Homo sapiens: one gene and its partner. Changing the gene in region 1 together with any one later gene gives a genetic interaction. Each region holds a gene or a part of one and is shown on either strand. Other genes may lie near its edges.

Region 1 (3,059 bases):
AGAAGCTTGGCAAAGGGCCTGGCATAATGAACATTCCCAATAAATGTTAGCTAGTTGGTCTTTGCTGCCTACTTGCTGTGTGACCTCAGGGAGGTTGCTTCCCCTCTCTGGGCCTGTTTCCTTCTACCTGGAGCATGCTGGACCAGGACCAGACAGGTCAGCCCTTGGACCATGGATTCTGAGAATCCTGGTCCCTTACAAAGTCCTTCCGTGCACATGTCCGCACCTGTCATGCTGGTCTGCCGCCGTTTTCGACCCTGAGAGTCTCCAGGTCCACCTGGGGACCCTTCAGCCTGCTCCCCTGAGCGAGGCACAAGGGTACAAGACAGTGACAGGTCCACATGGTCTTCCTCTGCTGTCCCCTGCAGCAGAGCAGGTGAGGTGCCAGGCCGCCTGCCTCCTCCCAACTCATCCCGGCCTCGCCGGGGCCCCGTGGGAAGGTAGAGCTTGGGCAGGCCAAGGCCCCGCACACGCTCCCAGGCGAAGTCACCCTCCAGTGGTGTCTCGGTGACAAAGTCGAAGTTCCATCGCTCACGGGCCTCCTGGATGCAGCCCGCCATTAGCGCATCACAGTCGCGGCTCAGCTGCTCGCTGTCCACTGGGCCGAAGAGGCGGCGGCAGGCCTTGCTGCCGCATGGGTTCTGACGGACATCCCCAGCCGGTTCTGACATGGCGCCTGCAGCAGAGATACAAGGAAGGCCCTGGTCACGGCGGAGATTAGACACTATGTTACCTGGCCGGGCTTTGCTGTGTCACCTCAGGTGACGTCTTCCTACCAGAGGGTCTCTCTCACTCCTTCCAGCTGGTCTTCCTGCTTCCTTCCCACAGGAGGCCTGACCCCCACCAGCAGAGCTCAGCCAGCCTGGCACACCAAGGTCACTGGGAGAGCAGGCAACTGAAGGGCAAGCTAATGTCAACAAAGGCAAGTCTATTGCAAGAGCAAGGACCAGGGTCCTGTTTGCCACCAGGTATTATCAGCTAAAATCAATTTGTTTTCCCCCCAGAGGTGTCCCTCATGGGTGTGAATGCCCCCCAAATATGTGTGAATTGCCAGAGTCCAGCAGTTTCCTAATCGCAGCCCTGGCCAGAAGGTCAATTCCCAAAAGAAGAAACAGTCTGACAGTTCCTCCAGCCTCCTAAGTCCCCCGACCCAGATCCCCAAGTAGGGTAACCCTGCTCTGCCAAGTAAAAGTACCCGGGACTTTGGGGCAAAAAGCACCCGGGTTGTGGTCCTAGCTCTGCCAGTTACTACGTAAGCTTTAAAAAGCCACTTAATGTCTCTAGGTCTCAGTTTCCTCATCCATAAATGGGGCCATGTACAAGTTTAAAGAGCATGGCTACAGACACATACTCAAGAAATTGATCACAGAGTCCATGCAGCAAGGCAGACAGAACAGAGCTGAATGAAAGGCTGTATCCTGGTGGTTAAGCAGGAGGGCTCTGGAGCCAGATCACCTGGGCTGGAGTCCAGGTTTTACTAGGTGACCCTGGGCAAGCAACTTAACTTGTCTGAGCTCTAGTTTCCTCATCTATAAAATGGGGATAGTAATAGTGACTGTCTCAGAGGATAGACATGAGAATTAACTGAGTTAATGTAGGTAACGTGCCAGCAGCACTTCGTATAGAGAAGTGCATTGAAAACAGAAGTATGATTATTCCTCTCTGCCTTCAGTTTTACTGAGCCTCCCCCCTATCACTTCCCCCTGCCAACTACCTCCTTCAGACAGCAGCTGACAGGTGCTGTAGGCTGAGGGCCTTTCCCAAGGATGTCGTCAGGCGGGTGGCCTAGGGGTAAGGAGGGGCCGGGCGGGGCAGCGCAAGGGATGATTTCTCCCAGGCTGAGCCACATCCTGCCAGGCACATCAGGTGATCTGAAGTCTAGACACCTGGCAGCCCCTGCCTCGTGTTGCCTGTGTCCAAGGAAACCGTTTTGCAGGCAAAAAGAAAATTAAAGGTGGCTGGTCTACCTGGCTCCTCTCCTCCCCCTTCAGGAGAGGGAAAACGGAGAGTGAGTTTGCCCATGAGGGAGCCCTGGCACCTACCTGCCTGCTCTGGCTTGACTCCAGGGCTGAGTGACTGCACGACCTTGGCAGCAACTGGATTTTCCTAGGGACAAGTCCCAACTTGCAGTTTCTGGGGGTGAAAGCTCTGCTGAGTCCTCATGAGGCAGGAAGCCCGGGACACATGCCACATCTGCTCCACCCCACCTCACCCCACTGCTTGTGATCAGTGGAGCCCACAGTTTCACGTCCCAGCTGGTTGGGAGAGGAGGCTCTTGGTAACTTCACACCAAGTTTAAAGGGCAGGAGATGGAAGAGATATGAGACTTGCCCCTGAGTCATACAGCTAAAAAGGCCAAAGGCCACTGCCCCATAAAGGGGTCACCCAGTACAGTGGACAGAGCCCTCAAATAACCTCTATCCACCCTCTGCTAGGCATGAGTTGGGATTTATTTATATATTTTTATGTTTGGGGGCTGTTCTAAGCAGTTTAAAAATATCAATCCTCCTAAAAAGTGGATATCTATTAGCTCCCTTTTTACAGAAGAGGCAACCAAGGCTCAGATAAGTTAAGTAACTTGCCTAACATCACACAGTTCATAAGTGGCACAGCCAGGATCTGAACCCAGGCCTGTTTGCCCTGAGTCCTGTGCTGTAGTATTGAACCCCACTCCCTCTCTAATTTTGAGGTTTCTTAACCAGAGAGGCCCATCACAATCACTTGGGGAGGCCAGGGGCAGTGGCTTATGCCTGTAATCCTAATACTCTGGGAGGCAGAGGTGGGAGAATCATTTGAGCCCAAGGGTCCAAGACTAGCCTGGGCAACTAGCTGAGACCCTGTCTCTACTAAAAATAAAAATAAATAAAAATTAGCTGGGTGGTTGGGTGCAGTGTCTCACACCTGTAATCCCAGCACTTTGGGAGGCCGAGGAGGGCGGAGCACGAGGTCAGGAGATTGAGACCATCCTGGCTAACACGGTGAAACCCCGTCTCTACTAAAAATACAAAAAAAAATTAGCCGGGCATGATGGCAGCACCTGTAGTCCCAGCTACTCGGGA
Region 2 (3,500 bases), on another chromosome or scaffold:
TAACACAGCAACTAGCCATCTCCAGTATCACTGATTCCCACCCCAAGAAGTTGAGGTAAGAGGGGAGAGACTGTCTCCTGTTTAAGAAAAACCCACCTACACCTCAGTGAAGCCGTGATGGTAAGGAGGCTGGCACCAGAGGGCAGGGATGAGTAGGCACTGAAACAGGTCTCTCTAGAATCAATGAAGTCTGCCCCAGCTCCTTGGATGAGGTGTTCTTTTGAAATTCCCACTTTTATGGAGTTAGATAAGGGGACAACCGGTGATGATTCATCACTCCCTGTCTCTAAAATTAAAACATGATAAACCCAGAAAGTTTTACCTTCAAAATCCACCAAGCTCCCTCCTGAGAAAATTCTATCCAGTCATGTCCATGCCAGCACCCACTCCCTTCTCCTAATGCCCAGGGCTTCCAGCCCCTCTCCTCACCCTTGGGTGGTCCATCCAACACTGATTTGATACTCTTTGACTCATAATATGACCATTTTTTAAAAATTAGAAAATAAAAGCTATCAATATCACAGCAACATAAGGAAGATACTCAGTGGACATGCTCCTCCCCCATCCTGTGGAGCCCACCTACCCCCACCCCCCTTCCCTGGGAAACCTACACTGCAACATTCCAGCACTGAGCCGGGGGTGGCCCAACAGATGCTGCCTCAAGTGCTTTCCTGACTGTGGCTCCTATACCAGCCAATGTCATGGAACTGGGGTGAGGAAGAACAGGGCCACACCTCCCACCAAATAGATATCGGTAGCCAGTGGTGGGTCTGGGAGATTTAGCTTATGTCAGGCAGCCAAGCCTGGGTCCAACGCTCTCACCAGGACCTCAGTTCTTGGCTTAAATAGCAGCAGCCCCAGTACCACAGCGCCTCCTGGGGGTGACAGAGCACCTAGCTTTCTGTCCGATAACTTATAACAGGTTTGCATTTTCTTACCCACTTCTTTTTTTTTTTTAAATTAAAAGCCGAGGTAGTCCCTGGGATAATAAAACCCTACCTAGAATGGCAGTATTTCAACCTAATGAAGCAGTAAAATAAGTCTCCAGGAGTTAGAAAAAAAAATAAAATAAAGTGATTGATGAAGTTGAATAAATTAAACATATGGATTATCCCACAAAGACCTTTCCTTCCCAGGTTGTCTTTGCTATTTGGCCAGCAGCATTTCTGTGTAACTTCTCTACTCCCCTCCGTCTCCTCTCCCCTCATGAGATGGCTGGAGCCCGATAAGGCCCCGGCTGGTTCATCCCACTGTGGCTCAGAGCAGCTTGACACGGTGCTCAGAACTGCATTGTGGCACAGTTCTGATATGGACGGAGGACGTCTAACAGGGACAGAAGAGGCGTAGCCAGCAAGATGCCCTGGGCTCCAACCTTGGGAGTGTGGGAGGTAGGTTTAAGGCATGGAAGTCCCAGGCCCCCTCTCCAAATGTCACACAGCTGTCCCCTTTGCTTAAGTTTCTCTGCAGCAAAGAGGGTAAAGGGGGATGGAGGGAAGCTTGGGCTGCTGCTGGCTGGTCCTGCCGCCCTCAGAGCTTCTTCAGACGACTGTACATCTCCCTCTTGCTCTTCTCCCCTGCCCAGGTCCGGCTCTTGGTGCGGAACTTCTTCAGGTCTTCTTTAAAGTCCTCGTGGTGCATGGGCCGGTAGCTAGGGGGCTCACAGTAAGACTGAGGGGACAGGAGAGAATAAGGTTAGGGTACACCTGCCTCACACCCACAACCTGGTTTCCTCTCTGCCTAGGGCTACAAGGCTGAAAGCGGCCAGGCAGACCTAGGGAGCCAGTTCTACAGGGGCTTTCTTTGGGTTCAGCAGATACCCACCTTGTCCCCCGACCCCTGGAAAGAAAGTCATGACCACCAGACAGATCCATTAGTCTACCACTGGGGGCAGGGGAGGAGAGATGCTCTCCACAACCCCAGTCTTACCTGGCATTTCATAAAGAACTCCTTGTATCCCCCCTTCAGGACATACAGCTCAGGGTAGTGGAGTTTGGGGTATTCATTACCCAGGCGATCTCTCTCTCTCACATACCGGCACCTAGTCAGGGGAAGGAAGGCCAAAGCAGGGTTAGCTTTTCCAGCACAGCAACAAGGCAACGCAGTCAAAGCAGCAGTTGTGGTCTAAGTCCCCCTTATACACATCTTCCCAACTTGACATTTATTCTTAGAAACAATCAGTGCTGAGTTGCAAGTTCCTGGCCACATGAGCAGCACTCACAGCCAGTGCCAGTAGATGGTCTCTTCCCCAATTTTCCTTTCTCCAACAATCCTAGCATCTGAGTCCTGCCCAGCACCTTCACCACCACAGTTTGTGGCAAGTTTTCACTATATGAGCCAGCTTCCCCTTGCTTTCTCCACCCCAGCCTTCTCTTCAGCCAGGCTCCCTCACTCACCTCCTTCTACATAAGTGGGCTTGTTTCTTTCTGTGGCTTTTAAAGAGGCTGAACTTGCTCCTGCCTCGGGGCCCTGTTTCTATCCTCTACTTGGACTGAATGGTCTTCAATATCCAGCCAATGGCTGCTTACTGCCTCGCCCTTGGTGAAAAAGCCCGAGGCCCCAAGTCCTTCAGAGGCCTACAGCTCTACAGGCCCCTACTGCTGCTCTGCCCCTTGTTCACCCCACGCCAGCCCCTGCAGCCCCACTACTGTTCCTCCAGCCTGCCTGGGAGCTCCACCACTGGCCTTATTTTCCTCTGAAGCACCTTCTTTTTTCTGAGACAGAATCTCACTCTGTCACCAGGCTGGAGTGCAAGGGCGTGACCTCAGGCTCACTGCAATCTCCGTCTCCCGGGTTCAAGCAATTCTCCTGCCTCAGCCTCCCAAATAGCTGGGACTACAGGCGCGTGCCACCGCCCAGCTGATTTTTGTATGTTTAGTAGAGATGGGGCTTCACCATGTTGGCCAGGATGGTCTCGACCTCTTGACCTTGTGATCCACCTGCCTTGGCCTCCCAAAGTGTTGGGATTACAGGAGTTAGCCACCGCACCCAGTCACCTTTTTTTTTTTTTTTTTGAGATGGAGTCTCACTCTGTCGCCCAGGCTGGAGTGCACTGGCGCGATCTCGGCTCACTGCAACCTCTGCCTCCTGGGTTCAAGGGATGCTCCTGCCTCAGCCTCCAAAGTAGCTGGGATTACAGGTGTCCGCCACCACGCCTGGCTAATTTTTGTATTTTTAGTAGAGACGGGATTTCACCATGTTGGCCAGGCTGGTCTCGATCTCCTGTCCACTCCGAAATGTAAGTTCCATGAAGGCAGAGATTTTTTGGTCTGTTTTGTTCACTGCTCTTCTCCCTCAGTATCTAGAAAGGTATCTGGTACACAAGAGCCAAGAGTATCTGCTGATTTTCTCTTGAAGCTCAGTGGTTTGGGGCCTTTGTTAGCTGCTCATGAGGGATGGGCAGCAGCTTCCTCTGCAGCACGTAGCTTAAACCATTTGCCTGTGGTTAAAAGGAGTTTGGCTGGGCGCGGTGGCTCACACCTGTAATTCCAGCACTTTGGGAG

The links. A genetic interaction does not mean that the proteins touch.
Region 2: changes in CDKN1A (region 1) and CDC25A together harm fitness more than expected from each alone (negative genetic interaction), as found in Homo sapiens cells (one large-scale study listed by BioGRID).

What each region holds. Positions count from the first base shown.
Region 1 is NC_000006.12:36,681,714-36,684,772, reverse strand, and holds part of CDKN1A (cyclin-dependent kinase inhibitor 1), read right to left. Parts: intron 677-3,059; coding exon of another isoform or gene 672-676; coding exon 227-671; coding exon of another isoform or gene 128-226; intron 1-127. UniProt on the Homo sapiens protein: Plays an important role in controlling cell cycle progression and DNA damage-induced G2 arrest. Involved in p53/TP53 mediated inhibition of cellular proliferation in response to DNA damage.
Region 2 is NC_000003.12:48,157,418-48,160,917, forward strand, and holds part of CDC25A (M-phase inducer phosphatase 1), read right to left. Parts: intron 2,039-3,500; coding exon 1,927-2,038; intron 1,669-1,926; coding exon 1,528-1,668; 3' UTR 1-1,527. UniProt on the Homo sapiens protein: Tyrosine protein phosphatase which functions as a dosage-dependent inducer of mitotic progression. Directly dephosphorylates CDK1 and stimulates its kinase activity. Also dephosphorylates CDK2 in complex with cyclin-E, in vitro.